Linked DNA regions of Homo sapiens. The protein of the gene in region 1 purifies or fractionates together with the protein of each later gene. This does not show direct contact. Each region holds a gene or a part of one and is shown on either strand. Other genes may lie near its edges.

The links. Proteins that work in one complex are often made in the same cells at the same time.
Region 2: the proteins of ANGPTL2 (region 1) and DKK3 purify together in Homo sapiens (co-immunoprecipitation; one large-scale study listed by IntAct). This does not show direct contact.

The regions. Positions count from the first base shown.
Region 1 is NC_000009.12:127,112,636-127,116,135, forward strand, and holds part of ANGPTL2 (angiopoietin-related protein 2 precursor), read right to left. Parts: intron 1-3,500. UniProt on the Homo sapiens protein: Induces sprouting in endothelial cells through an autocrine and paracrine action.
Region 2 is NC_000011.10:12,001,459-12,006,546, forward strand, and holds part of DKK3 (dickkopf-related protein 3 isoform 1 precursor), read right to left. Parts: intron 980-5,088; coding exon 842-979; intron 1-841. UniProt on the Homo sapiens protein: Antagonizes canonical Wnt signaling by inhibiting LRP5/6 interaction with Wnt and by forming a ternary complex with the transmembrane protein KREMEN that promotes internalization of LRP5/6.

The DNA.
Region 1 (3,500 bases):
CTGAGTCTTTTCTGTGAAATGGGATGATCCAACCCACCTTGCACACTAGGTGAGCAGCATGGAAGTGCATCAGAAGCGGGAGATTGGAATAATGTGTTAGCAATACGATAGCAAGAACAACAAAGCTGAAACAAAACCAACAACAGTGAGGATGCTGGGTGTGGGCCAGGCAGTGTGCCAAGCACTCACACCATCTCCTTGACTAATGCTTGCACAGGGCTTTAGGGCTTCCAGACCCTTCACATCAACATTCTCTCATCTAATCATTCCAACACTCAGAGTGACTTACTAGTGTTATGCCCATTTCTAGGCTGAGGAAACTGAAGCTCAAAAAGGTGTAGGGGTAGCTGACTTTGAGGTCATGTTGCGAGCAGTGGGACCTCTTGTAACTACATTGATTCTGAGTCCTACTGTTACACCTCTGTGGGGCCTAGGCTTAGTGGGGGTGACTCAGAACTGATTGGGTTACAGGAAGGAAGGGAAGGAACAGGGCACTGTGCTGGGCGCCTGACATACATTGTCCCAGGTAATCCGGTGGGTTGTTATTCACCCCTGTTTTATCAACGGAGACATTGCAACCCAAACAGGCTCAGTGATTTGCCCAGGAACACACGGCAGATAACAGCCAAAGGTGACTGAGCCTAGGACTTGGGTCAACCTGATACCAAGGGCCATGCTCCTTGGGCTTCTCTTTGAGCCTCAGAGTCATTTATTTTCCTTGGAGTCCAAGACTCCAACCCCAATTCCTCCCCTCCCCCCAGCAGTTTTTTGCCAGTTTGGCGGCTCTTAATGGGCAGTAATAAGTTTGTTTACTTTTGCTCTCTTGATATTTATTCAACTCATTGTATCTCAAGAGAAGTAACACCCCCCACCCCCACCCCGGCATTCCAGCCATCTTAGGACTGAAGAAGAACTCAACTCCAATCAAAGTGATGCTCCTCACTTTTTTCCTGTGTCCAACAAAGAAAAGCAAATCCAACTGTTTTCCTTGGCTTCAGAATTAAAATAAAAACGATTCTTAAAATTGCTTTTCCACATTGTATTGTGAGGAGTTTCCATCACGCATGGGTTTTCCCTCCCCACAAGTGAGGCTGGTGTGACTGTGCCACGTGACAGCCTTTGTACACTGGGAGGCAGCCTCTCCAGGGCTTGGGTCCCACCCAGTCTCCGGTGGGCTGCCTCTGAATGTCCCCGCTTGGCCTGATGTGGTGGGGCCACACATCATGTGTCCGCATCCCTCTCACCACTGTGGTGCCACAGCCCAAGCAAGGGGCCACTTTGTGGGAAGAGCTGTCATTTTCATCAGATGGAGCTGTGTGTTCTGCCCTGCAGCAGAAGCTGCCGGCCTGGGATCCTCTTTTGAGTTCACCCCAAAGGTTAGAAATGAGAAAAGTTCCAGCAATTAAAAGAATAACAACAATAAATTGTCACTATGGCTCAAGCACTTTATATACATTATCTCACTTAATCTTCCCAACAGCCCTCGGAAGGCGGCCTGTTATTTGAGGGCCGCCATGCATGGTGGCCCCACTTGAGCACTGTGCTACTCTAGGGGACACAACTCACATTCATAGTCTTTATGTTTTTTATATTTATATTGTAGCAATTTTCTGATGCCCACAAAGATACTTTTAAGGCTAACAGCAAAGCTGACATTTATCCCTATTTGCAGTTGAGGAAACTATTGAGATTTGAGGATCGTGAGTCATTTGCCCAAATCACAAATTAATAAGTAGTAGAGCCACTAACAGATCCCAAAATAACCCCCAAAGATACCATACTGTGAATAAAGAGAAACCAAAGTGCCAAAGTGACTGGAAACCCAAAAGAGGTTGTTCTCTGACCCTCTAGGCAGGACGACGACAGGAGTGCTCTTGCCGTCATTAGGCCTGCAGATCCCAGGGAAGCCTCCAAATTAAATCCGGATCTCAGGAGTTGATTCATCATCAGTCCAGGTTGTAGTCCTGCCTGGAGGACTTACAGAACCACCCCCTCACCACCCGTCCTCTGGTCAGCACTGCCCATTGGTCTGTGATCACAGATGAAGGCCAATAATGGGTCCACGCCATAAGAGGCATCCCAGCACTGCAGGAGGCCTGAGAAGCGGGCCTCTGCCAAGGCAGTCAGGGAATCTGGAACTGCCAGCTGGCCCCTGACGTCGGGGTTCTGGGAAGCTAGAAGCCTGAGCTGTGCTTGAGTGAGTCTGGTGGACCTGAGCATGAATCAAGTTTGTGAAACTATCATCAGGACAGAAGACAGATGAAAACATCAACATTAGCTAGCAGGTGTTCCTACTAAGCTGTTGAAATGTATGGTGTGCTGGTAGGGAAGTATCCAAACCAGTTGGTAATCCAAGATGTGGGAGGGATCCAGATGAAGGAAAAGGCCCAGCTGATCAGGTGACCAGTAGTATTGCTAATAATGGCTGTCGTTTGTTGTGAATTTGGGTGCCCAGCTGTACTCTATCTCATTGGCTCTTAATAGCTCTATGAGTAGGGGACCATACATCCTGGTTGGCCCCAGTTGAGGTCTGTTGTCTTACGTAATTATTATTATTATTATTATTATTTTGAGATGGAGTTTCGCTCTTGTCACCCAGGCTGGAGTGCAATGGCACCATCTCAGCTCACTGCAACCTCTGCCTCCCGCTTTCAAGCAGTTCTCCTGCCTCAACCTCCTGAGCAGCTAGGATTACAGGTGCCTGTCACCACACCTGGCTAATTTTTGTATTTTTAGTAGAGACAGGGTTTCGCCATGCTGGTTGCGGTCTTATGTAGTTATTAATAGCACCCCCTTTTCACTCTCAATATTGTCCTGACTGAGCAACAAACTATATGATCCCATTACCTAAGAGAAAGGTATTATATCTGCATTTGGCAGTAGAGGAAACCCAAGTCTAGAAAGGTTAGGTCGCTTGTTCAAGATCACTTGGAAGTAAATATCACAACTGGGATTTAGCTGTCAACTGCTAGGTCCAAACCCTGCCTTGCATCAAGATTGTCTCTTCAACCAGTATGAATAAAAGGTGCTTGTTTGTTTAATGGCTGAGATGCAGCTTGCATGTTACTCACTGTTGACTGAATAAGTAGAAATAGCTTTCAGGTCAGCACAAGGGTGTGTTTTGTTGGATGTTGGAAAGAGCTGCTTGATCACGCAAGTGGTAAGACCCCAAAATGGGCATCTGGGATGAGCAGTGACACCCTCACCTTGGAGAACCTGGTGAAAGGACTGTGCATTGTTTGTCCTGGATGATTCACCATCAGCCCGGAGGCCAGGGAGGGCATATCCAGATCTCCAGCTGCCCTCCCCTCCTGGCTGAGGATGCTATGAATGATTCCCCACCAGAAGGCACCTGGGGAGTCTGGAGTCAATTCCCAAACCCTTCTAGTTCAGCTCTCATAAGACCATTGAATGAACCATTTATCCATCCATCCAGCCCTCCATCACCCACCCATTTAGCCTTCCCATGCAGCTAGCCATTGTGCATTGCTACTACCTGT
Region 2 (5,088 bases), on another chromosome or scaffold:
GGCTCTTTTGTGAAGCCGCTGTGCCCTTGCATACAGGAGTTGAGATGAGCTGAGGGGGCAGGCTCCTTGATATTCACAACGGGATGCTCACAACGACCCTGAATATCTGCACAGCACACAGTCTTAGGCAGTTTGCTCTCAGAGTCCTGCCAAATCATGTCAGAGACATTGCACACCAGGGGCAAGCTAGTGCTATGTTCCTTGAGATTCGCAGAGCTTTCTTCATCAGGTCAGAATGGGAATGAACCTGGTTGTTCTTCATGCATGATGTTAGACCAAGAGGCACTCAGACAGGTGGTAGTTTGGGGAAAAATCTGCCAGAGAATTTTGAACGCACAACCAGCAAATGAATGTTTAATTTTGTAGCAATAGAGGGTTTCTCTTTTGGAAATGGGGTATATCATATTTACATTCCTCCTAAAAAAAAGTGAGGGTCAATTCACCATAACGTGGTCTCTAGTTCAATCCCTACTGAGACATACATAAAAACCTATGAGATAGATCAATTCCACAAATTCAATGCTAGGAAAGGGTCTTTTTAGACATCCATTTGCTTTCTTTTTTTCAAATGATAATCCCTGGACATTCCTTTGCAACTGGACTGGCAGGAAGCCTAGGGTTAAATATATTGCTTAAATGCAAAAGCAGTTTAGGATCCTGATACATTGTCTCTCCACTTTCAACAGTAACATTACTCCTTCTGGTTTTCAATCCGTATTTTATGATTCTCAATTGTAGTTTGGGCTTGTATATCACATATGAAAAAACAAAAACAAAAAAACCTTAGTTCTCTGATGGGACTGGACGCTATAGAAAGGAGGAAGTGCTGGCCATGACTTACCTTGTGAATTTCTCGGTGCACATGGATGGTATTATTTCCAACCTTCGTGTCTGTGTTGGTCTCATTGTGATAGCTGGGAGGTAAGTTTGCCAGGTTCACTTCTGATGATGCTTTAGCAGCAGCTTCTTCTGCCTCCATCTATTAAATCGATGAATTTAATGAGCAAAATTATTTTCTCTTGTTACAAATGGGAGTCTATTAGAAAAAAAAAATCTCTTTTCCTCTTCTGCAATTACAAAGAATGATGATGATGATAGGTGCTATTAATTGAGTACTCACTATGATAAGATATTATACTAAACGTTTTACATATATTACAGCACTGAAATTTCACAATCTCTCTGGGAGGTGGGTGTTAATGTCCTCATATTACAAATAGGGAAACTGAGGCTCAGGAAGACTAGATAAATTCCCCAGAGTCCCAGGAAAGGGTGGAGCTGGGATTTGAACATGTTTCCACTAGATAGTCTTGCTCCCTGTGTAAACGCTGTTGATGCCCTGCCCATCTCCTGGTGGCCTAATCTGGAGGTCACCTGTATCCAGTTCCCATACATGCCAACAACCAACTCTGTCTCTCTCTAAGGGCATTCTCTGGTCACCAAAGTATGCTCAGTCTGCAGAGGCCCCAAGTGCTAGGGAGTTAACATCCTAGCAATGAAAGTCAGGCTATGGAGGTAAACAGTCTAGCTTCTCCCTTCGCTAGACAATTCTAAAGCATGTAGAATCTACGTAGTCTCCCTCTAAGGCCTCCAGTGGGATGGAGCCCTAGATGCCCGCAGCAGTAACCTGCTTGCAGGCATACCGTTGATTGTCTTTCTTTTCTTTCATCACACTTTCCCACTTCCTGCTAGTGTTTTCTGGGAGCACATCCCAAATGCACTATTTGCTCTTAAGTCCTTGTGGCAGGACCTGTTGTTGGTGGTGGTAGGGGCAGGGGATGGAGGGAACCTAAACTTACTCCCTGTAGGTAGGGCCACAGCTGTGTCTCCTTCCCCACCCTGCCTCTTGGGTACCCTTGTAGGAAATCCTTGCAGAGGGACCCTTGTAGAGGGTCAGTTAACCAGTTCCCGGGGTCCACACCCCTTCTGGTTTTCTTAGACATATGTTCTTCTCTGGTGTCAGGTTTCTGTGGCCGCTGTCCTCAAATCCTCCAGGCTCATGATCCTCCATAACATCTATACCAGATATGTCAGTGACCTCATATCTGCACCCAACTTCCCCTTCCAGATTTATCACCCTGTCCTGGCCCTGATGAGTGGGCAGTTGACAATGTGACCTGTTCACAGCTGATGGGACCCAAAGGGAGGCCACATCATAGACTAATTGAGCCAATCAGATACTCTCTCTAGGAATTTCAAATGAGAGACATAAAGAGAAGTTCTACCTGATAGTTGGCAATTTTCCAACACTGCTATTTTTGACTATGGGCTATTTTTATTTTTTTTTTTAAAAAAAGAATGCTCAAAAAGTATTTTCCTATTTAAAAAAATCACTGTCCTCTATCCCCTTAAGTACTAGATGAGCCCCTGCTTTAACCACCAGGTTTGCTGAGCTGAGGAGGATAAGAGGAAAGAATCCTCATGTCTCAATGCAACACAAAAACACTAAACTCAAAGTGTGAATAAAACCTGGTAGGCAGAAAGGCTCAACAAGGACTTAGTCAGTGGCCGGATTCTGTGCTGGATTCTGAGATGGCTGCTGAGATGTTTGAAACTTGATCACTGGCTTCATAACAATAATAATTCTAAGAATAGCCCCCACGTTTGGGGCATTGACTATGTCTGAATCGTTGCACCAGATGCCTTGAATATTGACAGCAACCTTATGGGGAAGCTGTGATTATAGAGTCAGGTCCAAAAGTTTAAAAAATTGAAATATCTGGATCCCTTCATGGACCCGCTGAATTGGGATTTCTAGAGATGAGACCCTGATAATACTGAGCTTCTCAGCTTATTCTGAGGATTTCCCTCCCCTCCCTCTGATCCCCAGTTAAGAATCTCCGTTCCAGGCAATAGGGAACTACAGCAAGTTCCAGAAGGCTAGCGGGAAATAATATAAAGAGTAGATCAGAAAGAGAGGGGAGTCAGGAAACTGGCTAGAATTAGGTCTAGGAGATGGGAGCTACTTCTGGGTAGGGACCTTCTAGGTGGGAAAGACTCTAAGTAAGTCTAGAAGGATCAAGCCACTGAGAGATGGCCACTGGATGAGTCAAGTCATTGCCTGCAGCATCCTCGGAGAGGAACACAGTGGAAAGTACCAGGATTCTGGAGTCAGACAAGGTGGGTTCAAGTCCTGGCTCTGCCACAAAGTAGCTGTATGACTTTAGGCAAGATACCAAATCCCACTAAACCTCAGCTTGCTCATTTGTAAAATAGGGATGTCCTACTTTGTTGAGTAGATATAAGAATTAAGGACCATGCAGTAGATATAAGAATTAAGGCATGAAATACACTATCTGCCACACAGCAAAGATGAAATACACAGCTGTTTTTATCCCGTTGCCCTTTAAGAAGGCAGTTTCAAAAGAAGCCAGTTTGTTTTGCCAGAGTTCTGAAGGGAATGGGTAGCTAGAAGCAGGAAGAGCAAACGTTGATATCATGTGTTTGAAGAGCTTGCCAACAAAGGGGAGAAGAAATGGGGCTGAGATAGAAGACAGAATGGGCAAGAAAATGACTTTCCTTAAAAGCAAGAGACCTTGCCCTCAGTTACCACTCTGGTTAGTGATAGAAAAAAACGCAGCTGGGAAGAGAAGACTGAAGGTGCTGGAGAGGACCCACCCAGAAGAAGAGAATGTTTTAGTGTTTTTAAAATTCCCATCGGGATCAGTTTGGCTTTCAAATAATTGACAAGTTGCCAAACCTAGAATTTGCTCTGGGCTGAGCAGATAGTCTTTTTATAAAACTTTTCCCCCCAGCTCAGCCACTGGTTATTTCAACAGAATGAGCTAACGGTTCTTAAATGGCACCATGAACTAAAAGTATAGTTTACAATGGAAATTTCAACCGCAACTATTATTGCCACTAGCAAGAGAAACTTAAGTCTGAAGCAAAAGGAGCTGTTTCGTAGAGGAGGAATGTGAATGCTATTAAAAATGGCACTTATACTAGAAATAGGTGAGGCAGTAAGAACATTCTAAAATGAGTGAGTTACAGAGCTGGCCATGAGGGGAAGAGAAACAGAGTGGTTATATCTTCAGAATACATTGATTGGTAGCATATAGAATAGTAACACAGGAAAGTAGGAATATCCCAGATTGAAGCCATTTGAAGATATGCTTCTTCCAATAATGACCGTACAAGTAGAGCTGCTTTGTCCTTCCCCTTAAGAAACTTCAACAGCTTGATTCAGCTGGAACATTGAAAATGCCAGGAAGTTACTTGAAAGGAGATTCATGATGCAACTATGTAAACAAATAATGCATCTGGCCCAGGTCCTTTTTGATTTTTCCCCTGAACAATGACTAAATACCAATTATCCTGTGTCTATGAGATTTAAGGGGCATTCTGGCAGTCTCCATAAAAAGTTAATACTAATAACCACAGTCTATAAACAATCTATTGTATTCTATTTTTGAAGATATCTAAAAGATACTTTTAGTATTTTAAGATTAATTTTTAATGGTTTAAGATATTTTAAAAGATAGATTCTATTGAGAATCTATCAGACACTGGTGGTGTTTTGTTATCATTCATACTGCTACTAGTAATATGATGATAATGATACCTGTTACTTATTTACAACCAACCATCATGTCATCCTTACAGCCACCTCACAATGAAGCTACCTGTATTACACGTGTTTTACTTAACCCCATTTTAGGCAGTCAGCGGATGGCCTGCCCTAGAACCACAGGCATCACAAGCTCAATTTAATGTGAAGCTGCAGAATTAAGAGACATTGGGGCCTATATGACTCCCTTCACCCTTTAATTGTTCCATGTCATGATAGTTTCACAATCACAGGAAACAAAGATCATGGATCTTGGGCTCTTGACCTGACCAGTGGATATTCAGGGATAGCTGCCCAACTCACTGATTTGCTTTACTTGCAGCATCTCATTTAATTCTCACCTTACCCTAAGAGGTGGACATTTCTCCACTTCAGACTCGGAACGCCACTGCCAGTAAGTGGCAGAGCAGGGACTGGATGAGGGAAGATCAGTCCCCACTGCCTCTTCTCCTGCCATGGTGTTCAACCTCTCTCATCCTGTACCCACTGCCAGCGAGGACACCTCTGGGAAAGAGTGG